Homo sapiens: one gene and its partners. The protein of the gene in region 2 interacts with the protein of the main gene of each other region in a biochemical or structural test. Each region holds a gene or a part of one and is shown on either strand. Other genes may lie near its edges. The genes, in order: PRKACB, TNP1, PRKACG, PPARG and PRKACA.

Region 1 (6,176 bases), on a different chromosome or scaffold from region 2:
TATTTAATTGTTTGAGAACTAGATGTTCTCTGCAAGAAAAGGAAGAGCAAAAGTCCCAGACTAGTTTGTGGCAAAAATAACTAGGAGGGGAAAAATATGAGTGTCTCTGTATAGAAAAGCTAGAGCATGTTCCATTTATTCTTTATTTCTCAAGGTTATTAATCTGTCAGAGAGATTTTAAATTTTTCTAATTCAGCATTATATAATATTAAAATAATTTTGACCTAAGTTGAATAATTGTATTTCCTTTTTATTTGTTCATAGGATAATTCTAATTTATACATGGTTATGGAATATGTCCCTGGGGGTGAAATGTTTTCACATCTAAGAAGAATTGGAAGGTTCAGGTAACTAATGGTTTTGCTTTCTTCAAATCTTTATATGCTTGTGTTGTTTAACCAGATTTTTAAGTTGATGCCAATGCCAAAAACTTATTTTGTTTGATTAATATTTTGGCCATATGAAGCATTAGGTGGAAACAAAGAGGCCACATCATACACAAGTTTTAATATAAAGAATATAAAAATTTAATATAAAAAAAGGACTTTGAAGCCAATTTAAATGTTATACTACTGCTAGATATTGTGAGGGTCCACTACTTGAAGAGTTTTCAGAAAATGGAAAAATTAATTGAATTTTAAAATATCAATATTTATTAAACAAAGATTAATAATACAACTCCAGGACAGAGGATTGTTTTAAGGATGAAGATGGAAAATAAATATATAGAGAAATAATAATAATAGTATTATGGTAATAAGATTATAAAAGTTTGTTTTTCACAAATTTAATTCTCCTTAAAGTTCTTGCTAAGTTTAGTTTTTAAAATATACACATAATTTAACGGGAGTTTGTACCTCATCAGGTTATGACTAATAAGATCTCAGAGTTATTAAAATAGGTTATAGAATCTGATGGTTTTACCTGTACTTAATAGTTTATAAGCTTCTACCGTTCATTAATAATCACTAATAGAATAAAGCTAAAATAAAAAACAGGTACAGCTTCATTCAGTATAGTGTGTTGAAGTCAAAATAAAAATGTAGAGACAAATCTCTAAATTCAACATTTTATTGAGGAAGCAAGAATTGCAGTTTGAGGCATATACACAGACTAGGTGGTCTTCAATGTGTCTAGAAAACAAAGAAAAGGTTGGAGGTTTTATAAAAAGAAATTTTATGTTTATTTGTTTTGAAACAAAGTTTACTAGCACTAGTTAAGTTTTGGGGAGCTGGCAAGCTCTGATTGGTGAGTGATGGTGGTGGGTCAGACTCGTCTAAGAGTCGCAGTAGGTTGTCTCAGTAGCTGTTAGAGAAAACTGGTTTCAGGTTACAATAGGCAGTTTCAGCAACTAGACTTGTGGAAAATATAATTTTTTTGTTTGTTTTTGGTTTTTTTTTTGAGACTGAGTCTCCCTCTGTTGCCCAGGCTGGAGTACAGCGGCACCATTTCGACTTACTGCAACCTCTGCCTCCTGGGTTCCAGTGATTCTCTTGCCTCAGCCACCCGAGTAGCTGGGACTAGAGGTGTCCGCCACCACATCCGGCTAATTTTTCTATTTTTGGTAGACACAGGTTTTCACCGTGTTGGCCAGGCTGGTCTCGAACTCCTGATCTCAAGTGATCCACCCTCCTTGGCCTCCCAAAGTGCTGGGATTACAGGTGTGAGCTACCACACCTGGCCTTAATTCTTGGAGCAGGTGCTGTGTGCCCTGAGTGCGTTATTCCCTGGCCCCTCGACTCTGATTTAGTTAGGTATGATGAGAATGACTAATTTGTATAATCAGCTTTCACATTTTTCCCTTTTGATCAAGATCTTTCTCTGAAAGCATTGCTTGTCAACCATCTTGAAGTTAGGCTTAATTATTCCTTGGTGCTCGGATGGACTTGTTCTGGTTGTCTCTGTCCCACATATGAGAGAAGTTATCTGTTGGGGGGTGTCTATGTAGGGACCTGGGCCACATTCAAGTAACGAGGAGGCCAGAAGGAAAATTTTTCTCAAAGTAGATTTTTGTCTGGAGTCCAGCCAGCATCGAGTTCCCACTTATCACTTCCATAGGTATTAGCAGTCATCTTTAAGTGTTGGGCTAACGTTATTCTGTTGGGACAGCTGCCTTTACAAAGATTAGATAGGCACTAAGAACAAAGCTTACAAATGATAGTACAAAAAAATTAACAATATAGTAAAATGTATTTGTGCAGTGCTTTTGAACTAAAGCCCAGGCCTAAGGGCAAAAAACTAAAGAAATCAAAGGACCAGGGGAAACTGGTGAGACCTGCTATAGCCATTGACTAACATTTTATGACTGGGTTGAACTAAAGCAGAGAATGCCAAACTTTGCAAGAGGGACCACCAGCACAAATTAAACAAAAAATTGTGTTAAGGATATTGTCGATGTTGTGACTAGATGAACTGAAAGAATTTCTTAAGTCAGGCTTTGTCAATGGCTTTAGCAGGTCTCACCAGTACCTATAGCAGTTACTGATTGTGAATTTTAAATTACAATATTATTTGGTTAAGTGAAAAAGCAGGCATTAAGAGGGGTAAGAGTTTCATTACAATATGGAGTCTTGTTCTAGTGTTTTGAGAAAAGCTGTTCACACCATGGAAAACATCAACTTTCTTGGCTTTGTTTACAGTGTAAATGTCTCTGGCTATGGCTTTGGGCAGTTTGATGAACTTTCTGTGTGGCCCATACATCAGGCATGAGACTTGTTTCTTAAAATTTATATAGTTTCAGCTAACAGGACTTCAGGAACAGAGCGGTTCTCATTTTAGTAATTTTATGGAAGAAAGTTCGATTGGAGGAACCTAGAAGAATTTAGGACCTTGTCTAGTCTATAGGTAGATAACAAGACTCAAAAATAATGTACAGACTTACAGTCTAATAACAGGTATATTATAGTTATTCTTTAGAAAAAACTTTTTTCTCTACATTGATTACATAGGAATCTTGGATTTAAAAACCTCTTGAGGCAAGGAAGCCGAACCAAGGCAGTCTTAGATTTTCCTTACAGTCTTGAGGTTCCTGGTCCTGCCAGGAAGTAACAGTTTTTATTTACTCATTGTAATGCTGAGAAACCCTTGAAGTCAGGCATTTTATGCACTTTTTAAATACGATAGTTCAGTTAGAGCCTTAGTAATATAATCAGTGTTTTCATATTCTGCTATAAAGAGAGAGCAGATTTTTACTGGACCTGTGCAAATAGTCATATTCCCATAAAAGTACTTACAACTAATTTTTGAATTAAGGAGAAAAAAAGCAAATGCTTTTATCTTTTTTTACAAAAATATACTTTACCAAATTGCTATAAATTATAAATAGCTAAAGAGATAAGTTTTTTTAAATCTGGAAACCAAAATATTTAAGAACTAACAATGTAACAATGTTTTAAATGAAAGTTATGAAAACATTATTTTTATCAATTATTTAATTTCATGTAATTTTTGTTCTGCTTGATCTTAATTAGTATTTTCATATACTCATCTTTTTTTATTAGGGTTCTGGAAATTTTTATTTAGTCTATTGATCTTAAAGTTATTAAAAACCTGTATTTAAGGGTACTTGTTGGGGTCTTTTCTATGAATCTGATTGTAAATAATTTTGAGAATTCAAAATATTAACTCTGGATGACAAAAATCTAGAATAGCCATGGGTAAAAATCTGATGAAAGTTTACAATTAACAAGTAAAATTAGTTATTTCTATTTTATCTAGCATTTTAAGACAATAACCAGAATTATGAATAACGTTAATTTCTCTGAATTTATATAATTTTTGAAACATTCATATGAACAACATAGCCATAAATGCAACTAAAAGATCTAGTATCACATCATTTATACAATCTCTTATATAATTTAAAAATAAATCTAATTATTTAATACGTCTACAAGATGAGATCTGTGTCTTCAAATGTTTTCCAAGGGCCCAGCTGGAAAATCCCAAAGCTAATTCTAGATTAAGAACATTTAATTTAGGATTTGATTTTTGGGAAGTTTGTTAAACATCTTAAAAGACTTAAAACCCTTGGTCAAAACGGAGTAACAGGTCACTGTAAAATAATAGTCATTTATTTAACCAGAGTGATAATCAAAAGACATCAGATGTAATACAGAAAGTTATATGAATGTGAAAACTTTTATTATTTTTAAAGCTCAGTTTTTCTGAGTAATGAAAAACCTGATAAAGACAACATAGGATATTATCTTGATAAAATATAAAATCTAGTTTTTTAGACAAATCACCAAAATGGTAAAGAAAAATCTTCTGCAGTATGCTCATTATTTCTTTTTCCCATTTAGAGCTTTCCATTAAAAAAATTACCAATCATCTGAAAGTTGATTGAGTACTTGAATTTAATCAGACACAGGAAGAATGTGTCCAGGGTTATTGAGTGTACACTGTGTTATAGAAAAATATGAACAAGAAGAGGACTATCTTGAGCAGGGAAATACATGGCTCTCAGTAACAGCATGAGAAATTTCCTGGTTACATGAAATAATACAGACATACCAAGAAGAGCCAAGAATACAGATTCAAATTATACTGAAAGAAAACTTCGTTTTTCTAGGCCTTTAAGATAAACGTTTCTGCATCAGGCCATAACAAAGTTCAAACTGAAAAAAAAAAAAAAGTTCTAGGAGTTGAGGAAAAAGGTTGAAGGAGGGAGTTATCAACCCAGCCAAGCAAAAAGATATACCTTTCAAGAAAGAGAAGGGGATGTATGACCTTCAAATCATGTGTAGTGTGACACAGCAAAAGCCGAACTTCTGAAATATAAATTTCAAAAGGAAAACTTTACCTCAAGAAATGGAATTACTATTTTTAATGAAGAGGACAGCATTTCAAACCTAAAACTAGGGAAATTAATTAGATCTCAGGAAGAAATGTGGCAGAAATAGAAATTGCACTTTGGAAGATGGCTGTCAAAGAAACAGATTTTATAATTAAAAATCACAACCTTTTGCAGTATTATTGAGAGCAGATCAATACTTCAAGAAAGTTTTGTTTAAATATAGAGAGCAAGATTCTGGTCCTTTGTCAGTGCACCCTTGACACCAATCATTAATTTTTAGAAAAATATGTAAACAATTTTCCTTTCCAATTTCTTTCCCTAACTATTTACACATAAAACTTTTTTCATAAGGTCCATCCTTTCATTTTTCCAAACCCCCAGTCTTAATCTTATAATTTTTCTTTTCTTCTTCCTCCGTTTTTGGAACAGCCAATCATTTTACTTTAGGAAAAATATTTACCACCTAATATACTTTTCATACAACATATTTTTTTCTTACATTCATATTTTGACTACTAGACCTCAATATACTTAAACTTTTTATAGAACTTAAGAACCCAATAAGGGATTTATATTTATTTAGCAATTTGTTTTAGTTTTTAAACTTATTTGTTATGGCCCAGACATCTAATAAGTATCTTATTATTTAATTTAATATAACATAACTGTAAGACTTTAAATTACATGAGACATTGATTTATAAATGTTTATTTAATTAACATTCACCTAATTTATTCATTTTTATTAATTATCCCTGGATTACTTATGAAAATTGAGATATTAGGCAGAGTCGTTATTTTAAGTTATTTTTATTAGCCAATTTTATAGCCTGTTAATATCAAATGTTTACCTAAATAAGAACTTAAAGTTAGATACATGAATATTCTTTCAATAACTCAGAAGATACACGTTTATTAAATCAGTAATATTAAATCTTATTTATCAAATAATAGCATATACAAAGATCATTTTGTTTTAGTCTGGGTTTATAGCTTCATGACCTTAAGAAATTTATCAGAGGCAAATATAAAACTCTCTGACCAGGAAATCTAGGCAAAAATCTGTGTTGACAATTTTGAAGACATTTCTCATTTTATTTTGTTAGTAACTTTTTAGTATAGTTAAGTCTTGTTGAATTGAACCCTTGATCTTTATGTAATGCCCTTCTTTGTCTTTCCTGATCATTTAAGTTCTGTTTTATTGTATGTAAGAATAGACTCCTATTCTTTTTTGTTTTCCATTTCCATGGTAGTTCTTTCTCCATCCCTTTACTTTGAGCTTGTGAGTGTCCTTATAGGTGAGATGGGTCTCTTGAAGATAGCAGACAGTTGGGACTTTTCTTTTTATCCAGCTGCCTTTTAAGTGGGTCATTTAGACC
Region 2 (5,136 bases):
ATATACACAACCATGGAGGATGAGGGTTATGAAGCATTTTCCCTATCCCTATCCTCCATTTAACAAAAAGGGAAACTGACAATGGAAAACTTTGAAGTATCTGTGTGCCTGATGGTAAGGAGAGATGTTTTTCACATGAACTTGAAAACAGCTCTGAATCAGCATGCTCATTCTTAGGGTTATGGAAGAGTGAGGACTTGAAATATTTTACCCCAACAAGTGAAATAACTTATCTGAAAAATGAACATGCTTTTTTTTATTGCATTTCTAGATTCTGACCCACAGGAACACCCCTTGCCACCCCTTATAGGACCAACATCCTGGTACCCACACATTTGCATGAGGCTCAGACTTAATAGTGTCCTCTTCCCATGTCTCACACCCCTGACTGCTGGAAACTTCGTGTCTAACCTCATGCCCCCTCATTCCTTCCTGCTTATACCCTTTCCTGGTTACTTCCCCAGAAACCACGTGGGTGGTTGGTTCTTGAGTTTAAATATGAGTCTCATTTCTACCCTGGAGCTACCTCTGAGGCAACAGGAAACAAGAAAAATACGATCCACCTCTGAGTGGGTGAATGTCATATCCTTGACCAGAGACATCATAAATTGTGTTACAACTCAGGGACAAGGTAAAGTGAGGGCTTAGGAATTTCCTAAATGAGCAGAACCAGCTCTATCCCTAAAGTCAGTTCTCTCTCTCTCTCTCTGTCAAATGATCAATACTCAGATTGAGACAATTCCTACTTCTAGGCACACTGGACTAAGGCTTATGGCATGCTACGAGGCAATATCCCACTCTTCAGTCTTGCCCACCTCAAGCCCAACATAGCTACCAAAATAACCTAAAGAAATCTAAACTCTCATCACTTCCACTGTTACCAATAGGATCCTTTACAAAGAACATGTTGGTCTCTGTTCAGAAGGTGTTCCCATCTCTTAGCCTGCTAATACTGCCCATATGATCAATGAATTAAGAGCTTCTAAGAGCTCCTCCAGGTGATCTCTATCTCCGGGCCAAGTCTTTAGATTTAGTTTAGCTTTCAACACCTCTATGCTATAAGCTCTGACGAAAACAGCTTGCATCCTTTGGTTTAAGCTCTAACAAAAACAGCTTGAATCCTTTGGTTAATGCTAATGAATGCATTTCTCCCTTTTTTATCTCTTCTCCCTTTCCATGTTGAGGAGAGAGACAGCACACTGGGATGAAGACAAATACGGCAATAGTGTGTGGCCAGAGTAGGACCACCTCCCACGGTGGTGGGAGGGAATTGGAGGACAAATTACTTTTGATATTTTCCAAGTCACATTTAATGGTTTCATACTGGCCAATTCTTCCCCAAACCCACCTAGCTCAGGAACTCAAGTCTTTCCAACCAAAAGATCAAAGTAAACATTTCTGCTTTCAAAGTTTTATTGAGATGTTGGGGAAAAACAGCCAACATATACATTCCTCATTTCGTCACAACTGGCATTTGATCCACATTCCATAGGCTCCTCTCTGGCTTTGATCTAACATCAGGTCTCCTTGGCAGTTCCCCTTCTGCTGTTCTTGTTGCTGCTTGGTGCTGTGTGAAGCGCACCAGGGCAGAGCCCGCTGGGGGCTCACAAGTGGGAGCGGTAATTGCGATTGGCTGTGGGAAAGGACAGGTTTGCAACAGAGACACGAATTAGAACATTCCCATCAAGACTCTTGTTGCTCAAATCTGCATTTAGTTATTGGAAATAATCTCAGGCCAAGATTTCAGGGTCCTGTGAGAGCTGCCTCCAAGAGGGAGGGCCTGGCAGCAATGTGTGCCTAAGTTTGGCAATCTCCTCCCCATCCCTCACTCACCGTCATCGCCCCGTTTCCTACTTTTCAGGTTGCCCTTACGGTATTTTCTTTTGCTGCCACCTCTCTTGACTCCCTTGTGAGGAGATCGGCTCTTGCTCCTCCTCATGCCATGACTCTTTAATTTGCGGCTGGTCGACATGGTAAGTTCTGCCAAAATGAGGGGCTTTGCAAGGCCCGGGGGCCAGGAGTCTGGGTATTTAAGGCCTTGGCCATTGTGACAGGGAAGGGGCATGGCTCAGCAGGTGGGCGGGGCTCTACTGTGCTGTCACTCACCTTTGCTGCACTTTGGTCACATTTGTGAAATAAGGTGGTCCTTTTCGTGCAGCTCAAGGGCTGCCCTCAGTTTTGAGGTCCTTTTTATGTTAAGTGAGGCTTTCCCAGAGAGGTGTTATTGAGAAACTGAATCCCAGCCCTGTGCCAGGCATTGGATGAGTACAAGAGACCATTCAGATATGCTTCTCCTGCCTGTAGGAAATGTAACAGTCATTGAGTGTGTGTGTATGCATGACTGTTTAAGTCTCTCACAGCATCCAGAGATAATAAATTTATTTCTGTAAGGACTTGACTCTACAGAACCCAATTCAATATGATCAAAATAGAAATATTCCTTCTTTTTCATCTAGGTCAGGATTTCTCAGTCTTGGCACTGTTGACACAATGGGCAGGGTAACTTTCAGTGGGCTGTCTTGTGCACCCTAGGATGTTTGGCAACATCCCTGGCCATTACCCACTGGACACCAGAGAAGCCTGGCAGCTATGACAACCCAAAATATTCCCAAACATTGCCACCTGTTTCTTTGGGAGGCTGGGGAAGTGAGGGAAAAAATGGCTCTGGTTCAGAACAATTAACCTAATCATTTTTTAAAATTCAGTCACAGATATTGATCACATAGCATATGCCATACATTTAGGTGGTAGAAAATTAGTGGAGGATAAACACACGTAGATACTGTGCTCATGGAACTCTCAGCCCACTGGGGAGAAAGCCATTCATCAGATGTCTACATAAATCAGTGAGTAAGTACTTACGGAGTCATTTTGGCTGGAGAAGGGCAGAGGGAAACTCCCTACATGGTACAGGATGAGGCTGGAGGGAGAGACAGAGATCAAACCATGATCAAGTACATTGGGAAGCCTTTAAAAATGTTAAGAGGATGGCATGTGAGATTAGAGGGTGCCAAGTGGGTGATGTATTGACTGGAGGAGCTGTGTAAAGGGAGATGCTACTGTCAACATCAATGGTTCAGCAGAGAGAAAGATTTGATGATGGTTTAGGTCTGGCCAGGAAAGGTGTTGATTGAGATCTAAAGTAGACAAGAGACCAAGGCTTGGTGACGGATTGAATTTGGGAGGTGAAAGCAGATGGTGTCAAGGGTGTGGCTTTTGTTTCTGTATAATGCAGTTATCTGGATGCTGGTGCCATTCATGGGGATAAAGGCCAGACATGGGGAGAGTGATGATCATGTACTTGGTATAAGACATACCAGCTTTGAAGTGCCTTTGACACTTACAAATAGATATATTGAATGATTATTGGTGTATAAGTCATCCAGCCTTTCCTTTTTCCTCCATTACACCTCATAGTAAATGCTTTGCTTTTGAAAATGTTTCTTTCTTTTTTTTTTTTTGAGACCGAGTCTTCTCTTTTGCTCAGGCTGGAGTGCAGTGGCACAATCTTGGTTCACTGCAACATCTGCCTCCTGTGTTCCAGCAATTCTCCTGCCTCAGCCTTCTGAGTAGCTGGGATTACAGGCGTGTGCCACCATGCCTAGCTAATTTTTGTATTTTTAGTACAGACAGCGTTTCGCCATGTTGGCCAGGCTAGTCTTGAACTCCTGATCTCAGGTGATCTGCCCACCTTGGCCTCCCAGAGTGCTGGGATTACAGACGTGAGCCACTGTGCCCGCCTCATTCGGATTTCTATAGAACTTGTTTGCTATTTCTTCCATTTGTCTCTCCTCTCTCCATTGTCATTACCCTCATTCAAGAACTGAGCATCTTGTATGCAGGAGATCCTTAGCAAAAGTTGGTTGAATAGAAGAGCGAAAGTAGTTCAAGTCCCACTCCCTGGTTTTCTGATATCTATAGATGGCAAATTGAGTTTTGAAACCCAGATTCCTTGTATAGCCACCATATGTGACACTTTCCATTTTCCTGCTTCTGGGCAGGTCTCTCTGGAGACCTTCTATTGGTGACTTGTTGGTGACTTTTATTCACATGAAGAAGTTCTATAAAACAGGCTGCTGGCTTGCTTGTTGGTAGTCCAGACCTTCTGCGTCCACTCAAGGCTGGTTGTTTCTCCTACAAACATGCCCCCATGAAAGCAGGGACCTCTGTGAAAGCAGGAATTGAGAAATTGGGCTCACTACTGAATATTCCCTGGGAGTTCATCAGTCCTGCCACAGAATAGAAGCTCAGTAAGTATTTGTGAAATACATTTGGTCAATGAATAAAAAGTCCTTCTTTTATTTTTCTAACTATCCTGTTCCTTCCCATTTTGCCCCACATCTCTAAGGAAGACTTCCCAACTTATCAAATTTTCACTGTCCTTTGAAACTTCTTCAAAGTTTATTGTCTGTATAATATTGGCTTTAAAGTCTAGACAACCAACCCTAATTGTGTGAAATCATGTTTTATGCCTGCATTGCCAGCCATGTGTGTTAGACTGGTTTCAACAGGAGGTGGTGTGTCTTCATTCTGGTCCTGACTGGACTTCTCTGGTCGTTAGCTCCCTTATTCTAAAAATAAGCAGATTGGGCTAGGTGATCTCTGAAATGATCTGACTTTGGCGATAGCCTCCTTCTCGTTAGGGACTGTACCTTTTATTTCTACTGCATTTTCCGCAGGTACTAGCATGGCCCACACTAGGTGGTCAGTAAATATTTGTTCAGTCTAGCTGCTTTGGTATATTATGAGGACAGACAGTTCAACACAATCACAGTGACTTTGCATAAGTGGGGCCATTTCAAGGCAGGGAAGAGAGAAGACATTGTCCTCACAACAGGTCCTCTGGTGCTCTGTGTCCACCTCTCATGCCTGAAACCATTGGCTAAAATGTTTACAGAGGAACTGGCCTCTTTGGTTTGAGAGACATTTTTCTGGATGGTCCTGAAGGCTGGATACTATTTCTCTCCCCAATCCCTCCCACCCCCAAAAGATCTGCTCTGCCAAGGAGAAGCTGAGATCACAGGGAAGAAGGCAGCCAGACTCGGGAACTGATGAAGAAACAAACAAAAAAGTCCCCTTTGCCTAGAGTTGAGGAGCAGTTCTGGTTCCAGACACCCATGCTGAGAAACTTAAGCA
Region 3 (6,047 bases), on a different chromosome or scaffold from region 2:
CTTTTGTGTATATGGGGTGTTTTTTTTTTCATGAAGAGAAAGACTATACTTTTTATCAAATTCACAGTGACCTGGACCCAAGAAATGTTAAGAACCTTTATTTTAAGACCTAACTCAAAAGCCGTTTCAATACCATGAGGCTGTGATCCTCAAAACTCTATCCCCACTTGAATCACCCGTGGCCTGCCTGTGTTGTCTCACCTGTCTCAAAAAACCTCAACATTTTCAACCGTTTTTTAATGACTGAGGTATAACTTACATATGCTAGAGTGCACAGCTATGAATTGTATAGTCCAGTGAATTTTTACATATGTGTAGACCCATGTGCCCAGCACCTAAAGCGCATAGAAAACATTTGCAGCTAACCTACTGGCTTTTTTTTTTTTTTTTTTTTTGAGACAGAGTCTCGCTCTGTCGCCCAGGCTGGAGTGCGGTGGTGCAGTCTCAGCTCACTGCAACCTCTGCATCCCGGGTTTAAGCAATTCCCCTGCCTCAGCCTCCCGAGTAGCTGGGATTACAGGCAGCTGCCACCATGCCTGGCTAATTTTTTGTGTTTTTAATAGAGACAGGGTTTCACCATGTTGGCCAGGCTGGTCTTGAACTCCTGACCTCGTAATCCGCCCGCCTTGGCCTCCCAAAGTGCTGGGATTACAGGCGTGAGCCACCGTGCCTGGCCACCTGCTGGCTCTTTCATGTCCCCTCTCCACCAATGCCATCCTCAAAGGTCACTATTATGACTTCCAGCATCATAGATTAGTTTTGCCAGTTCTTTTTTAACAAAACTTTATTGGTAATAGTTGGTTTTTTGTTTTGTTGTATTGAGACAGAGTCTCACTCTGTCACCCAGGCTGGAGTGCAGTGATGCGATCTCGGCTCACTGCAACCTCTGCCTCCCAGGTTCAAGCGATTCTCCTGCCTCAGTCTCCCAAGTAGCTGGGATTACAGGTGCATGCCACTACGCCCAGCTATTTTTGTATTTTTTAGTAGAGACGAGGTTTTGCAATGTTAGCCAGGCTGTTCTCAAACTCCTGACATCAAGTGATCCACTTGCCTTGGCCTCCCAAAGTGCTGGGATTACAGCACCCGGCCTTATTGGTAATAGTTTTGACATATGTTTACAACAGCACACTGTTCAAGAGGAAATCTCATCTTTTCACAGCAAGCAGGTTGAATCACCCTGAGCCCACCTGGGGACCCACCCCAGGCCTGAGAGCTCCTCCTGGGATGGGGAGAAGTGATGAGAGGGGGAAATATGAAGATGAATGAGGTGGCTTGCCAGCAGCTCCTCACTTTTCTATTAAGAAAGAAAACAGACCAGGGACGGTGGCTCACTCCTATAATCCCAGCACTTTGGGAGGCCAAGGCAGCTGGATCACCTGAGGTCAGGAGTTCAAGGCCAGCCTGGCCAATGTGGCAAAACCTCGTCTCTACTAAAAATACAATAATTAGCCGGGGATGGTAGTGGGCCCCTGTAATCCCAGCTACTCGGGAGGCTGAGGCAGGAGAGTCGCTTGAACCCGGGAGGCGGAGGTTGCAGTGAGCTGAGATTGTACCACTGCACTCCAGCCTGGGTGACAGAGTGAGACTTCATGTCAAAAAAAAAAAAAAATTGAAAACAGCACGGGGTGGCAGGGGAGAAGAGGTGAAGGATGGCTGACAGCTAAGCTGGAGAGGGGCACCCAGGATGGGAGAAGGCAGAAGCTGCTGGGTGAATAAAACAGGCAGCCCCTCCCCAGCAACCCTAGCCTTGAACCCTGGGCGATGAGGTGGGGGTGGAGGGGCTGGGCCTCTTCCATGTCCTTTTGCAGGACTGCCTTCCCATAAGGAGAGGCTGGGCATCACAATCTGGCTGAGAATAAAATTAAGGAGTTTCGGGGAAATGCTGCTGTGAAGAAAGACTTGGGCTTGGAACTCCCACTCTGTCTTTTTGGGGGACAACTCCTCTTTGGCAGGGAGTAGGGCAGCTGCTTTTCTGGCTCCCAAAGCCCAAGGGTGAAGAAAAGTCTGCTGGGGAAGAAGAGAGTGGAGCTTCCTAAAAGAACTGAGACCTTTGCAAGAGTGATAGAGGATGCCCCTGGGGAGGGGGGAGGGGGAAATCAGCAGTTCATGGGGGAAGTTCAAACCCCAGAGCCTCCTTCCAAAGTCAGTCGGCTTCCTGGATTTGTTAAAATGGAATGGGGAGACACGGTAAGGTGGGAAGGGTGGGAGGGGTGGAAGTAGAGGAAGGAGGAAAGGGGACACTGGTGGAACTTAAATAAGATTTTAATTGTTTTTTGTTTTAATTTTTTATTCTAGCAAACAGCCCACTGAACATGGCACTAAACCTCTCTCCTTCCCAGGCAGGATTACGCCAAAGGGTAGGTGTGCTTTTCATTCATCCTCTCTTAGTAAGTGGTGCCTGTTCAGGGCTGGAGTTAAGTTTGAGCCCCTCTTTCCACACCGTGTCCCTTGATACAACAGCAAGACCTGGCCTGAATAGAGCTGAGAAACTCGTTTAAAACAGGCAGAAGGGGGCTGGGGCAAGGGGGACCCTGTGGGAGGAGAAAGAGAGAAGCACAGAGGGACCAGGAAGGCATGGGGGGGGGTGAGGGAGCAGCTGGTGTTTCTGTTCCTCCAAATATCTGGGCTTCCTGCTCCCCCAACCCTGGAGGGTGGGGTGAGGATGAAATTAGATACAAGGAACTCTGGGGCCCTCTGGCTGTTCAATCCAACCCTCCCATCCCCCAAACCACCAAAAACAAAAAGGAAAGAAAACCCACAGGGGCACAAGCACACCCCTAAAACTCAGAAAACTCCTTGGCACACTTCTCATTGATGGAGATCCGGAGCTCTTCCTCCTCGTAGTCGTCAAAGTTACTGGCATCCCCAGGGCCTGTGTACTTCGGGATGAAGGGAGCTTCCACCTTCTTCTCATAGATGGCGATCCAGCTGGTTGTGGCGAACCACTTGTGGTTCTTGATGTCGCCAACCCCGTTCCTGAGGTTTCCGAAGCGCTTGGTGAGGTCCACCTGCAGCAGGCTCCGCAGCAGATGCTTGAGGTCAGAGCTGAGTTTGGAGGGAAACCGCACCCTCCCAGAGACGATCTTCTCGTAGATCTGGATGGGCTGGTCGGCGTAGAAGGGTGGGAAGCCCACGGCCATCTCATAGATGAGCACCCCTAGGGCCCACCAGTCCACGGCCTTGTTGTAGCCTTTGCTCAGGATGATCTCGGGGGCCAGGTACTCTGGGGTCCCGCACAAGGTCCAAGTGCGGCCCTTCACGCGCTTGGCGAAACCGAAGTCCGTCACCTGCAGGTAGCCCTGCTGGTCGATGAGGAGATTCTCGGGCTTCAGGTCGCGGTGGATGAGGTCGAGCGAGTGTAGGTACTGGACGGCCAGGACGACCTGGGCGGCATAGAAACAGGCATGGGGCTCGCTAAACCTTCCGACGCGCTGTAGGCGGGAGAACATCTCCCCACCCGGCACGTACTCCATCACCAGGTACAGGTAGGAGTTGTCCTTAAAGGAGAACTGGAGCTTGACGAGGAACGGAAAGTCGATCGCCTGCAGGATGCGCTTCTCGTTCAGTATGTGCTCGACCTGCTTCATCTTCACCACCTTCTGCTTGTTGAGGATCTTCATGGCGTAGTGGCCGCCGGTCTCCTGGTGCCTCACCAGCATCACCCGCCCGAAGGAGCCCATGCCCAGCGTCCTGAGCCGTTCGAACTGATCCGAGCTGGCGGTGTTTTGAGCGGGGTTTCCCCATCTGTAGAGGAAATCTCCTCTGGCTTTGGCTAGGAACTCGTTCACGCTCTCCTCCTGCTCGGTGTCCTTCTTGGCGGGGGCGTTGCCCATGGCGGTGGCGGCGGCAGGGGCGGGGGTCTCGCGGCGGCGGCGGCGGCGGCGGCAGCGGCGGAGATGGCGCCCCCTGGGGCTGGCTGCGCTGGCTGCGGCGCTGCGACCCCCGCCCGGCCTCCGCTTATATTCCCAGCTACATGGGAGGCTGAGATGGGAGGATTTCTTGAGCCTGGGAGGTCAAGGCTTCAGTGAGCCAAGATCACGCCGCTGCACTCAACAATATGGATAAATCCAAAAGGCATTATGCAAGTGAGAGAAGCCAACTCTAAAGGAGACTTACTGTATGAATCCATTTCTATGACATTCCAGAAAAGGCAAAACTATAGTGTGAGAGAACAGATCAGTGATTGCCAGGGCTTGGGGTTAGGGGACGGTTGGACTATGAAGGGACAGCCTGAGGGAATGTGGGAAGTGGTGGGACATGTTTGTATCCTGATTGTGCTGGTGGTTACAATGTATTGGGTGGTGGTCTACATTTGTTTTAAAACTCATAGAACTGGCCGGGCGCAGTGGCTAAAGCCTGTAATCCCAACACTTTGGGAGGCCGAGGCGGGCGGATCACAAGGTCAGGAGTTCGAAACCAGCCTGACCACCATAGTGAAACCCCGTCTCTACTAAAAATACAAAAAAATTAGCCAGGCGTGGTGGCGCATGCCTGTAATCCCAGCTACTCGGGAGGCTGAGGCAGGAGAATTGCTTGAACCTGGGAGGCAGAGGTTGCAGTGAGCAGAGATCGTGCCACTGCACACCAGCCTGGGCAATAAGAGTGAAACTCCATCTCAAAAACAAACAAACAAACAAACAAACACCTCAAAGAACTGTATACTTCCCCCCAAAATTCAGTTTTACTGCATGTAATGTTTTATTTTAACACATACATATGATTTCCTTTCTTCTGTTTGCTTTGGGTTTAATTGCTCTTATTTCCTAAGGTGGGAACTAAGGTCACTGATTTGAAATCTTTCTTCTATTACAATCACTTAGTGCTATAAATTTCCTCCTAAGTATTATTTTTTGCAGCATCCCACAAATTTTGGTATGTTGTATTTTCCTTTTCATCCAGCTCAAAATATTTTCTAAGCTCCCTTTTCATCTTCTTTGACAGATAAGCTATTTAAAAGTATATTATTTCGTTTCCAAATACTTGGGGATTTTTCAAGAATTTTCCTATTGATTTCTGATTTAATTCCATTGTTAGAAAACATACTCTGTGTGACCTAAAATGTTTTACACTTCTTGGGGCTCATTTTATGGCCCAGAATATGATCTATCTTGGTAGATGGCCCATATGCACTTGAGAAGAATGTATATTCTGGTGTATTCTGCTGTTTGAGGATACAGTGTTCTACAAATGTCACTTAGGTCAAGTTGGCTAGTAGTAGTGTTCAGGTCTTCTATATTCTTATTGACTTTCTGTTTACTTATTCTATCAATTATTAAAAACATGCCACAGGAGTTTATGAGAAGTCAAAGTACATAGATGATGGGCCTTCCATCACTCCCCCAGGCCACCATGTCAGCCGCCCCACACACCCTCCAGAAGACTGCCAGCACTCAGCCATCACAGGGTGGGTTCTGAGCTGCTCTCCCCAGTCAATTCTGTACAAAGATTCTGTCCTACATCATAAACACTGAGCTACAGGAATACCCATTTATCCTCCTATTTTCTCTCCATCTTGCCCTTTAAGTTTGACAGCTAATTCTGCCTACCCACCCTGGCTACACCGCCTGTAGCTAGTGCAAGTAAACAACACACTTTCACCTAGCCCTGCAGGCTGAAACCAAGCAAATTGGAGAGGAATCCCTGATTACTTGACTCCAAGTAGAAGGTTTCTATTGTGACTGTGAATTCTTGCCGCTCAGTTCAGCAGATGTTGGTCAAGCAGGTGTCTATTGTGTGCAAGGCCTGGTTCCGAGTTTACGGTTTAATCTGGGGCCAGTACTTGGGTACTGACTGTATATTCAGAGACGGTCAGGTTAGAGAGGAAGAAGAGGAAAGGAGAAAAATCTACTGTTGATCATCTGAACTTCCACAAAAGGGAAACCCACATTCCCTCAAGAACATAGCAGGGGGGTCAATTGCCCCTTGTGCTTTGGGTCAAGGCAAATCCCTGGCAGATGGAAATTCCACGTCTCCCCCATAATCTCAGTGATTTCCTCTTCATTTTCATCACAGTAGATCTGCTAAAATTCTGCCCATTTCTGACTTAC
Region 4 (6,176 bases), on a different chromosome or scaffold from region 2:
GAGTCACTTGAACCCGGGAGGCGGAAAACCCGGTTGTAGTGAGCCGAGATCGCACCACTGCAAGACAGAACGAGACTCCATCTCAAAAAATAAAATAAAATAAAATGAAGTAAAATAAAATACTAGATAAATAATATCAACTGTTTTTCTAATCTGGTTTTTCAAAATTTAATATTTTTCTTCTGGCAAACCTCTTATATACTGGAATCTCATCCTTTTTTGCTGAATTAATCAAAGATACCAGACAGCCAGGGATTAATTTAGGAAGTAAATTTGGTCAAGATATTAAACCATGCCAGGTAGTATATTTTTGTTCTATTAAACATAACGTCGGCCGGGCATGGTGGCTCATGCTTATAATCCCAGCACTTTGGGAGGCCGAGGCAGGCGGATCACCTGAGGTCAGGAGTTCGAGACCAGCCTGACCAATATGATGAAACCCCGTCTCTACTAAAAATACAAAAATTAGCCGAGTGTGGTGGCATGTGCCTGTAATCCCAGCTACTCGGGAGGCTGAGACAGGAGAATCCCTTGAACCCGGGAGGTGGAGATTGCAGTGAGCCGAGATTGTGCCATTGCACTCCAGCCTGGGCAACAAGAGTGAGACTTCGCCTCAAAAACAAAAAAACAAAAAACAAACAACAACAACAACAAAAACCCACAATATCAAGTAGTTATTTTAAAGTGAATCACGACTTGACCCTGGACTTCACAGCTCCAAAGGTAAACTATGCCATACTGTGATCTATTTGCACCCTAGGCATTTAAAGGCCGGTATTCCGCATGATGTGATGGTAGAGAGTGTAGAGTCTGAGCCAGCATGCCTGGCTCACAATCCTGTCTCCATCTTTTGCTAGCCACGTAACCTTGCGCAAATGAGAAAACCTCTCAGTGCTTTGGTTTCCTCATTTGTAAAATGGTCCTTACTTCCCTGAATTGTTGTGAGGATTGAATAAATATGCATGAAGTGCTTAGAACACTGCCTGGCACACAGCAAGTATTAAATAAATGTTTGCTATTCTTATGACTACTGCACTATGCACCTGATTTCAGAAACATTCTCCTTTCAACTGGACAACAAAAGATGACAAAGGGATCGTGCTCTTTATAATACATTGTGCAGTTATATACAGTTTACCACTATCCCCCGACGGGTTTTTCACAGAGGATACACTGTAGAGTACATACAAAAAGCTCACCTAAAGTCCACTTCAATAGGAAAACTTGCCACTTAAAAACAATTTTTATACAGAGAGATGAAAGTAAAACTTTCTTCTACTCATGAGAGGCTAATGAAAGTAATGTTTAGATTGTGCGTGGTGGCTTATGCCTATAATCCCAGCGCTTTGGGAGACCAAGGTGAGAAGATTGCTTGAGGTCAGGAATCTGAGATCAGCCTGGGCAACATAATGAGACCTCATCTCTACAAAAAAATTTTTAAAATTAGCAGGGCATGTTGGTGTGCAGCTGTTGTCCTGTCTACTTGGGAGGCTGAGGTGGGAGAATCACTTGAGCCCAACTGTAAAATGGCCACGTATTACTTTTATGAAGTAGCATGATCATAGCTTACTAACTGCAGTTAGAAGCTGCAGTGAGCTATGACTGTGCAACTGCACTTCAGTCTGGGTGACAGAGTGAGGCCCTGTCTCACAAAAAAAAAAAAAAAAAAAAAAAGGAAAAAAAAAAAAGAAAAAAAAAAGAAAAAAGTCACACTCAGAAGAAAATCTGGCTTTTGGAATTGGTTAGTCAGATCATGTACTACTTGCAGGGCCAAAAATACAACAAATTGCTAAATAACTAAATTTATTTCTATGTTGTGTGTTCGGTTCACATTGCATTCTTAATCACAACCAACTACCTCACAAAGGTACTTTAAGGGAAGCCATCAGAGGAATCCACACAAGAGAGTGGGTGGAGGTCAGTAGGTATTCCTTAATTCCTGATATCACAAAAGCAATTCAAAGTAGTATCTTACTGATGGTGGGGCAGGAGCATGATTTGACCAGAAATACTTAGTGGTCCCTTCTCTACATCAAGTGAGCATTGTCTTAAGCAAAGTTATACATGCCATTACTTACAGGAACCAAAGATTAGACTGGCCTCTAATCTTCCTTTCTGGAAGGAAAAGAAAGAGACAAAGAAAAGAAAAGAAAAAGAAAAAGGAGAAGAGGGCATTTGACTGGAAAAAATATATTGTTGAGGGATGAAAGAGAAGATCCTGGGTTACTTATAACCTTCACACCGCAAACCTATGACACTCTTTCTTGGTACAGTGTTTTGCACGTGTAGTGATGATTCATGGCATCATGCCACTGGCACTTAAAGTGACAATGCAGACTAACACTAAGGAAATCCAAAATTCTTTTGGCCACCCCACCATCATCCCACCCTCTTTCATAGAAGATCAAAAGACAAATCTTACCTCCACTGAGAATAATGACAGCAATAAATATTGCCAAGTCGCTGTCATCTAATTCCAGTGCATTGAACTTCACAGCAAACTCAAACTTGGGCTCCATAAAGTCACCAAAAGGCTTTCGCAGGCTCTTTAGAAACTCCCTTGTCATGAAGCCTTGGCCCTCGGATATGAGAACCCCATCTTTATTCATCAAGGAGGCCAGCATTGTGTAAATGATCTCGTGGACTCCATATTTGAGGAGAGTTACTTGGTCGTTCAAGTCAAGATTTACAAAACCAGGAATGCTTTTGGCATACTCTGTGATCTCCTGCACAGCCTCCACGGAGCGAAACTGGCAGCCCTGAAAGATGCGGATGGCCACCTCTTTGCTCTGCTCCTGCAGGGGGGTGATGTGTTTGAACTTGATTTTATCTTCTCCCATCATTAAGGAATTCATGTCATAGATAACGAATGGCTGCAAATAAAACAGGGAAAACGTGGATGACTTGGAGATTTCTAACTCACAGTGAATGCCATCCCAGGTTCAGAAAACTGTTTATGTAAACTTGCTTTGCTAACTAAAATCTTTAAAGCTGAAGATGCTTAATAATGAGAAAATACTCTCAAGTTCTTTTATTCATCTTAATTATCTTCTGGGACCAAACATATTTCACCAATTTTGGTCTTCTTTCCCTTCAATTTACACTGTAACACTTTACCTATGACTGGCTAAGAATCCTGATTTCTTTTGTTTGGGGAGTCTTCATTGTTGATTTTTATATTATTTGTTTGTTTGTTTTTGAGACAGAGTCTCACTCTGCGCCCAGACTGAATTACAGTGGCACAATCAGGGCTCACTGCAACCTCCACCTCCCAGGTTCAAGCAATTCTTGTGCCTCAGCCTCCTGGGTAGCTGGGATTACTGGCATGCACTGCCACACCCAGCTGATTTTTGTATTTTTAGTAGAGATGGGGTTTCACCATGTTGGCCAGGCTGGTCTTGAACTCCTGGCCTCAAGTGATCTGCCTGCCTTGGCCTCCCAAAGGGCTGGGATTACAGGCATGAGCCACCACACCCGGCCGATTGTTGATTTTTAAAATGATACAAAATCTACTGTTTATCTTGGCTTTCAATGAAATACACTTTTAACCTTCTTTCAATAAAAAACCATTTCAGCAACTCAGCGTTGAAAATACCCACTTGAACATAAAGTAACTACAGGTTTAAAAAAATTTTTTTTTCTTAAAATTTCTTTTTCCTTTTCCTTTGTTCTCCTTCACAGGTAATAACTTTTCCGTTTTAGATGAAATCCTCTCAGATCTCAAATGAAACTATGTGCACATAAAATATGCTTAACTATGAAAAATCACTCGGAAAGCAGATTACAGCTCTTGAACCAAGAAAATGTCTATTTCTTTTTTTAATGCTCTGGAAGCCATCTATTTCACAAAGAGCAGATATAGAAGGCCTACAGGTGAATGCTGCAAAAAAGCAATTTTGAATTTATATTTTAAAATATCTGTCCTTATAGGTCAAACAATCAATAAAATACATGCCCCAATTATTCAAGTTTGCAATAGGCTGCCTTCAAAAGTTAAGTCATTTGGTCATGACATTCTCTCTCTTTTACTTCCCTTGTATAGAACTAAGCAAGGTTTGTAGTCATTGAGAAATTCTCAAGGCTGTTCTGACTAAGGGGTAACATTTTACTTACACTGGATACACTGAATGACACATAAGGAGTTAAACCTTGAATCCTGTTCAAATACTTGTATACCTGAAAGCACTGGAAGAAGAGCTGAGGGTATGTGTGTTCCAGCTTTGGTTCTGTGGTGAGCCATGTGACTTAAGAAAAGTCATTTACCTTTCCTAGGCCTTAAATTTCTCAATCAGGGGTTTCCATCTCTTCTCCGGAGGAAATTCTAGTTGCATTTCTCAGAAGCAGGATGTGTGTGGGGAGTGGGCATATGTGTGGAGAGGTGTGAGTGTGCATGCACGACAAACATGAAGTCTCTGATGGACTAAAAGTAAAGATTGTTTTGAGCAGAGATGCTGACAATTCTCTCCTGAAAGGAGAGAAGGTGCATGAGTGGCCGTGGCAGCCGGCTTCAAGATGCACTGGTTGGAGATTCTATTCATATCTATGGAACTCTATGATTTTCATCAAAAGATTAAGTTTGTTCTAAACTGGAGGAAATAACACCAACATTGAGGAGTCTCAGATATTAAATATATTTCCAAACTTGTACGTCACATCAACACCCTTTACTGGAGTTATTCTGGAAGTTTTTACTTTTGTTACCAAAAAATTCACTTCAACTGTACTACTTAGCAAACTCCAAAAGAGGACAGATGTGAGGACCCCCAAACAGGTTTACTTGGTGGCTCTAATTTTTAAGGAAATTGGGACCAAACTGTCCTTACCGTATTTCTTAAACATTTTGCTTGGGTGGTTTCTTTCCTTTTTCTTTTTTTCTTTTCAGGATTAATATTATTAATGGGAGGAATACAAGGGGGGCAGAGCAAGTAACATCGATGAAAATTTACTGTATTTTTCCAGAACGTCAGGTTCTAATTATGAGAAAAATGTGAATGGATAATGATGCTTTCACAGAACCTAGAGAAAACGTGTTTCTTGTCCTCCAGGCATTTTACAGTGTATTATAATTTATATTAATGAAATATTTACTTTCTTTTTCTAAAAAAAAATTATTTCATTTTTTGAGATGAGGTCTTGCTATGTATGTTGCCTGGGCTGGTCTTGAACTCCTGGGCTCAAGTGATCGTCCTGCTTTGGCCTCCCTAAGTGCGTGCTAGGATTACAGGTGTGAGCCACCACAACTAGCCTTTATTGGCTTTCTTTCATGTCATGAGAAAATGATGATCTGGACACCTGAAAAGACCAACTGCACATGCAGGAGTACAAATAACATGAATATAAAATCATCACCTTTTCACATGTGGAAAGACTGTACCCAGAACTGCCCACTTCAACTTTCAGAGCTTCTGCTCAACCATTTGGCTTCTTGGCACAGAACATATGCATGAAATTCTTTCACCTCCATGTAAGTGATTTATCTGGAACTATGCCCTGATAAATCACCCTTGTCACTCTTCCCCTTTACTTCCCCTGTCCCCTCATATAAAGCTCCAGGTTCCTGTTTTTGAAACTCTGTAATAGTTGAACATAGGGCACAAAATCCTGCTAATTTTCTCTCCCAATTTAACAACAATGTGACTTTAACCCCTTGGCAATTGATGTTGGTCAGGATTTCCTGGCAGTAAATACTCAAGGACAGAGAGAGGAATCAGCACCCCACCATCATGCCAAACCATTTCATTTTTTTTTTTTTTTTTTTTTGAGATGGAGTTTTGCTCCTGTTGCCCAGGCTGGAGTGCAATGGCGCAATCTAGGCTCACTGCAACCTCCACCTCCTGGGTTCAAGTGATTCTCCTCAGCCTCCAGAGTAGCTGGGATTACAGGCACCCACCACCACGCCCGGCAATTTTTTTTAAATTTTTTTATTTTTTAGTATAGACGGGGTTTCACCATGTTGGCCAGGCTGGTCTTGAACTCCTGGCCTCAGGTGATCCACCCACCTCTGCCTCACAAAGTGATGGGATTACAGGCATGAGCCACCATGCCCGGCCCCATTCCAGCTTTTTCAATCCTTTCTGCATTCTGAAGAAGAGGTGAACTAGCAGAGAATTCTGGGTGTTGACATGCAAATGAACACCAGTTGTTTTATTTTTTCCCTAGTCATATCTGATTATACT
Region 5 (6,176 bases), on a different chromosome or scaffold from region 2:
GAGTTAAGCGTGAGCCCCTCTTTCCATACCCTGTCCCTGGATACACCAGCAAGACCTGGTCTGACTGGAGTTGAGAAACTCGTTTAAAACAGGCAGAAGTGGGCTGGGAGGGCTGAGGGGCTGGGGGGCTGTGGGGAAAGAGGAAGGGAAAAGTGGGAGAGGGGGCAGGAGGGTGAAGGGGATGAGGGGGAGCAGCTGGTGTTTCTGTCCCTCTGATTATCTGGGCTTCCTGCTCCCCCTAACCCTGGAGGGTGGGGTGGGGGTGAAATTAGATGCAAGGAACTCTGGGGCCCTCTGGCTGTTCAATCCAACCCTCCCACCCCCCCGACCAAAAAAAAGAAAAAAGAAAAAAGAAAACCCATGGGGGCACAGGCATGCCCCTAAAACTCAGAAAACTCCTTGCCACACTTCTCATTGATGGAGACCCGGATTTCTTCTTCCTCATAGTCGTCAAAGTTACTCGTATCCCCAGGGCCTTTAAACTTTGGTATGAAGGGAGCTTCCACCTGGAGAGGGATCAAGAATCACCCAGACCTCAGCATTCAACATAATCATTATTACAACAATAAATGCGAATGGCCTAACATTCAAGAGATATTTACTCTGACTCAGGCCTGTGCTTACCATTAGGTTATGGATTCCTCTTAACAGCCCGAAACTCTTAATGTAGCAACTCATCAAAGGGGAAATTACTTCCCAGAGAGAGGCATCTGTTGCACAAGGTCATGGAATGGCCAAATGACCCCAGAATCCCATTTCTAGACCCCACTGCTCTAAGCTCTCTACTCTAGGTTGCTCCTGAACCTGTGTTCTCTTCTCTATTTCTCTATTGGCTGTCCTCCCTGACTCTTGGCCTGCTCCCAAACCCTCAGCAGGCTTAAGGAGGGGAGGCCCACCTTCCTCTGGTAGATGGCAATCCAGTCAGTTGTGGCAAACCACTTGTGGTTCTTGATATCGTTGACCCCATTCTTGAGGTTCCCAAAGCGCTTGGTGAGATCTACCTGCAGGAGGTTCCGCAGCAGGTCCTTCAAGTCAGAGCTGAAGTGGGAAGGGAAGCGCACCTGGAGGAAGGGGTACAAGGACAGGGTGGGAAGCTGGTCTGGAACTTGGGAAGCCCATGATGCTTCTTTCTCCATCCAACGGTCCTACTGGGTGTGGGCCTCCAAAGCAGAGTGCCTGCCAGCATCTTGTAAAACAGCTCCTTGAGCCTACCCTACAGTTTCCAATTTAGGAAGTCTGATACTGTGGCCTGAGAATCTGCATTTCTTTAAAAACTTTAAAAATTCAAGAGTTAGTTATTTTAAGAAGTTTTTGTAGAGACAGGGTCTCACTACGTTGCCCAGGCTGGTCTTGAACTTCTAGGCTCAAGCGATCCTCCTGCTTTGGCCTCCCAAAGTGCTAGGATTATAGGCGTGAGCCACCACACCCAGCAAGAATCTGCATTTCTTTTTTTGAAAAAAAAAAAAAAAAAAAAAAAAAAATAGCCTCACTCTGTAGCCCAGGCTGGAGTGCAGTGGTGCGATCTGGGCTCACTGCAACCTCCGCCTCCTGGGTTCAAGGAATTCTCCTGTCTCAGCCTCCTGAGTAGCTGGGATTACAGGCTCACGCCAAGACACCTGGCTAATTTTTGTATTTTTAGTAGAGACGGGGTTTCACCATATTGGTCAGGCTGGTCTTGAACTCTTGACCTTAGGTGATCCACCTGCCTTGGCCTCCCAAAGTGTTGGGATTACAGGTGTGAGCCACCGTGCCTGGCCCAAGAATCTGCATTTCTAACAAATTCCCCAGCAATGGTGCTGCTGGAAAGGGGTCCCTTTTAAGAACCATTGCTCTAAGGCAAGTGCTATGATGATTTCCATTTCAGAGAAGGGGAAACTGAGGCTTGGGTTAAACAGCTCTTCCTAGGTCACATTGAGGTGTGTGATGGGGCAATTCCATCTCAGGTCTACTGGACTCTAGAACTTGCATTCTCAGCTGCTGCTGCTGCTGCTTAAGGCATCTCTGCTGGGGTCTGGAGACTTCTGAAATATTCTTGCTTATGACAAACTTTTTCTCTCCTCTCTTTCTGCATAGCTAAGGCTCTTCCGTTCTTTAAAGCCCAGCTCAACTCTTCTTGAAAGTTTTCCCCAAACCCTCTGAGCCCACGCCTTGTATGCAAGTCATCACTGGAGTTATAGTTGCAAGAAACGACTTCTTGTTCCTGCTGTGCCTCTTACACGCTGTGTGACCTTGGCCATGGCCCTTAACCTCTCTGGGCCTGCGCATGCCTCTCAGATGTGGGGCAGATATGCCAGGGCTGCACGAGGGAGATAATACCACTGACGGTGCGGGGGAACTAGAAAATGCTACAAAGAAGGGAGTCATGTGCATCTTCTCCTGTGGGATCTTCTGTGTTTTTTTCTTTCTTTTTTTTCCCACTCTGGGACATTTTTTTTTCTTTTTTTCTTTTTTTTTTTTGAGATGGAGTCTTGCTCTGTTGCCCAGGCTGGAGTGCAGTGGCACAATCTCAGCTCACTGCAACCTCTGCCTCCCGGTTTCAAGTGATTCTCCTGCCTCAGACTCCTGAGTAGCTGGGATTACAGGTGTGTGCCACCATATCCGGCTAATTTTTGTATTTTTAGTAGAGACGGGGTTTCACCATGTTGGTCAGGCTGGTCTTAAACTCCTGACCTCGTGATCCGCCCGCCTCGGCCTCCCAAAGTGCTGGGATTACAGGCGTGAGCCACCACACCCGGCCAACTCTGGGCCATTTTCTTGGCAGTTTCTTTTGGTCCGGTGGCAGATGCCTCATCTTTCCCTTTTTTTGAGACAGAGTCTTGCTCTGTCACCCAGGCTGAAGTGCAGTGGCGCAATCTCGGCTCACTACAACCTCTGTCTCCCGGGTTCAAGCAGTTCTCTGCCTCAGCCTCCCGAGTAGCTGGGATTACAGGCACCCGCCACCACGCCCAGCTAATTTTTGTATTTTTAGTAGAGACAGGGTTTCACCATGTTAGCCAGGCTGGTCTTGAACTCCTGACCTCGTGATCCACCTGCCTTGGCCTCCCAAAATGCTGGGATTATAGGTGTGAGCCACCGCGCCTGGCCTTCATCTTTCTCTTTTAGTGATGCTATGTGTCCAGCTGGGGCACCCCACTTGCCTGAATTTTTTTAAAAGACAGGGTCTGGCTCTGTGACCCAGGCTAGACTGCAGTGATGCAATCACAGCTCACAGCTCACTTCTGGGCTCAAGCGATCCTCCTGCCTCACCCTCCCGATGAGCTGGGAACACAGGGGTGCACCATCACGCCCAGCTAATTTTTAGTTTTTTTTTTTTTTTTTTTTTTTTGAGACAGAGTCCTGCCCTGTTGCCCAGGCTGGAGTACAATGGTGTGATCTTGGCTCACTGCAACCTCCGCCTCCTGGGTTCAAGTGATTCTCCTGCCTCAGCCTCCCAAGTAGCTGGGATTACAGGCGCCCACCACTATACCCAGCTAATTTTTTTTGTGTGTGTTTTTAGTAGAGACGGAGTTTCACCATGTTAGTCAGGCTGGTCTCGAACTCCCGACCTCAGGTGATCTGCCCGCCTTGGCTTCCCACAGTGCTGGGATTACAGGTGTAAGCCACCGCGCCCGGCCAGTTTGTTTTTTTTTTTTTTTTTTTAGAGATGGGGTCTGGCTATGTTGCCCAGGCTGGTCTGGAACTCCTGGCCTCAAGCCTCCACTTCCCAAGGTGCTGGCATTACAGGTGTGAGCCATTGTACCCAGCCCCAAAGTTTCAAAGCCAGTCGGTGGCAGAGCTGGGACTGGGGCCCAGGCTGAGCCTGAGGGTGCTCCCACCACAGTGTCATGACTCCGGGCCAACCAAAAGCTCCTGTGTAGGAGATGCTGGACCAAGTCGGGGGATGGTCGGGTCTTCCCAGCAAGGTGGTTGAGCTGAGGGCAGAGGTGGGGTCCCCAACCTCTCTCCGGCCATCAGTGCCTACAATGATTGCCTACGGTGATTACCTACTCACCAAAGTGTGATCTTGGCCAAGACACATCCCTTTTCCCAGCCTGTTTCCTCACCTCTCCTACAGAGGGTGCCACTATCTCAGGGTGTGACTGATGGGGATTCTGGGGCCTGGTGGATGGTGGGCACTTTGCACCTGTCATAGATGTGAGCTGAGATGGCTTCACCACCCCTCATCTGAACCCTCAGAGTTAGGCAAGTCTGGGTTTGGGAGAGGAAGCATGGGCTATAAATGCTAAGTGAGGGCAATCCTGGGTGAGGCTATGGACAGCACCTGGGAACAGGAACCAAATACATTCGTTTTTCTGCCTTGGAATTTGCGAAAACTCACACTAACTGGGATGAGGAGCGAAAAGGAGGGTCGTCTGGCAGGGCGGTTTGTGTTCTGTGGCCAAGATGTTCCCGTGAGGCTCGGGATTTTGGAAGCCCATGGGATTCTGGAACCGCGGGGTTGGGGCTGGACAGCAAGGGGGCTTGAGGTGTTGGCCTCAGTGTGGCCGGCGCGTCCAGCTTCACCACCTGGCCTGACTTAAGGAACTTCTAGATTATTCTGACAACAAGCAGGGCTCCCCAGGGAATAGGATGGGTGAGCAGGGAACGGTCTGTTTCTTCCAGGGCTGTGTCCCCACATCCGGACCTCACCTTCCCAGAGACGATCTTCTCATAGATCTGGATGGGCTGGTCTGCGAAGAAGGGCGGGTAGCCAGCGGCCATTTCATAGATAAGAACCCCCAGGGCCCACCAGTCCACGGCCTTGTTGTAGCCCTGGAGCAAGATGGGGGGGCACAGGGTGAGGAGGAGGCGAGAGCAGGAGAGCAGAGCCGGCCTCAGGGGAAGGGGAGGGCTGGGGAGGCTCCTACTTTGCTCAGGATAATCTCAGGGGCCAGGTACTCAGGGGTGCCGCACAAGGTCCAAGTGCGGCCCTTCACGCGCTTGGCGAAACCGAAGTCTGTCACCTGTGGGCACAAGAACAGGCAGTTGGCAGGGAGGAAGGGTCCAGGCCACGGCTTCCCCAGGGCTGCCCCTCGCCCGGCCTGGTGGGCACCTGAATGTAGCCCTGCTGGTCAATGAGCAGATTCTCCGGCTTCAGGTCCCTGTAGATGAGATCCAGCGAGTGCAGATACTCAAAGGTCAGGACGATCTGGGCCGCGTAGAAACGGGCATGGGGCTCACTGATGGGGACAAATGGGGAGGTGAACGTCAGTGGTCATGCCCCAAAATGGTCCAGCAGGTGGCCCTGCAGAGCCTACCCCAGAGGAAGACACCTCCAGTCCAGCCGTCAGAAACGCAAGGCACCTGATTCTTAGATAGCCCGACATGGGAAACAGCCTGTGGGTCCATCCACAGGAAAATGGAATCACAGACTGAGCTATAGTCATACAATGGAATTCCACTCACCACCACCACCGCCAACAGGACAGCCCATGCATCCACTCAACAATGTGGCTGCATTTCAAACTGATTATGTTAAGCAAAAGAAGACACAAAAGAACATGAATGATTCCATTTATATCATGTCCACGCCCAGACAAAACAAAGGCACGGTGTTTGAAGTCAGAAAGGACAACTGCCTTTGGTGGGGAGGTGACGTGTCAAGAGAGGGATTCGGCCCGGTGCGGTGGCTCACCCCTGTAATCCCAGCATTTTGGGGGGTCGAGGTGGGAAGATCGCTTGAGCCCAGGAGTTCGAGACCAGCCTGGGCAATATAGGCAAGACCTCACCTCTGTATGTATGTAGATATGTGTGTGTGTGTGTATATATATATATATATTTTTTTTTGATTAATTTATTTTTTTTAAGACAGTCTCGCTCTCTTGCCCAGGCTGGAGTGCAATGGCATAATCTCGGCTCACTGCAACCTTTGCCTCCTGGAAACAAGTGATTCTCTTGCCTCAGCCTCCTGAGTAGCTGGGATTACAGGTGTGCACCACCACGCCCGGCTAATTTTTATATTTTTAGTAGAGACGGGGTTTCACCATGTTGGTCAGGCTGGTCTCGAACTCCTGACCTTGTGATTCGCCCGCCTCGGCCTCCCAAAGTGCTGGGATTACAGGCGTGAGCCATGGCACCCGGCCTCCACCTCTGTATGTTATTGGAAAAAAAAAAAAAAAAAAAAGGGATTCAAGGGAATTTTCTTAGGTGATAGAAAAGTTCCATATACTGTTTTGGGTGGAGGTTAGGTAGCTATA

Evidence for each region.
Region 1: of the proteins of TNP1 (region 2) and PRKACB, one has a biochemical effect on the other in vitro, tested with the Homo sapiens proteins (one study listed by BioGRID).
Region 3: of the proteins of TNP1 (region 2) and PRKACG, one has a biochemical effect on the other in vitro, tested with the Homo sapiens proteins (one study listed by BioGRID).
Region 4: the proteins of TNP1 (region 2) and PPARG form a complex in vitro, tested with the Homo sapiens proteins (one study listed by BioGRID).
Region 5: of the proteins of TNP1 (region 2) and PRKACA, one has a biochemical effect on the other in vitro, tested with the Homo sapiens proteins (one study listed by BioGRID).

What each region holds. Positions count from the first base shown.
Region 1 is NC_000001.11:84,184,836-84,191,011, forward strand, and holds part of PRKACB (cAMP-dependent protein kinase catalytic subunit beta), read left to right. Parts: intron 1-264; coding exon 265-347; intron 348-6,176. UniProt on the Homo sapiens protein: Mediates cAMP-dependent signaling triggered by receptor binding to GPCRs.
Region 2 is NC_000002.12:216,858,063-216,863,198, forward strand, and holds TNP1 (spermatid nuclear transition protein 1), read right to left. Parts: upstream 2,003-5,136; 5' UTR 1,973-2,002; coding exon 1,834-1,972; intron 1,634-1,833; coding exon 1,605-1,633; 3' UTR 1,396-1,604; downstream 1-1,395. UniProt on the Homo sapiens protein: Plays a key role in the replacement of histones to protamine in the elongating spermatids of mammals.
Region 3 is NC_000009.12:69,010,260-69,016,306, forward strand, and holds PRKACG (cAMP-dependent protein kinase catalytic subunit gamma), read right to left. Parts: upstream 3,855-6,047; 5' UTR 3,834-3,854; coding exon 2,778-3,833; 3' UTR 2,245-2,777; downstream 1-2,244. UniProt on the Homo sapiens protein: Phosphorylates a large number of substrates in the cytoplasm and the nucleus.
Region 4 is NC_000003.12:12,413,401-12,419,576, reverse strand, and holds part of PPARG (peroxisome proliferator-activated receptor gamma), read right to left. Parts: intron 2,874-6,176; coding exon 2,423-2,873; intron 1-2,422. UniProt on the Homo sapiens protein: Nuclear receptor that binds peroxisome proliferators such as hypolipidemic drugs and fatty acids.
Region 5 is NC_000019.10:14,092,732-14,098,907, forward strand, and holds part of PRKACA (cAMP-dependent protein kinase catalytic subunit alpha), read right to left. Parts: intron 5,160-6,176; coding exon 5,033-5,159; intron 4,944-5,032; coding exon 4,848-4,943; intron 4,753-4,847; coding exon 4,630-4,752; intron 1,062-4,629; coding exon 897-1,061; intron 507-896; coding exon 381-506; 3' UTR 1-380.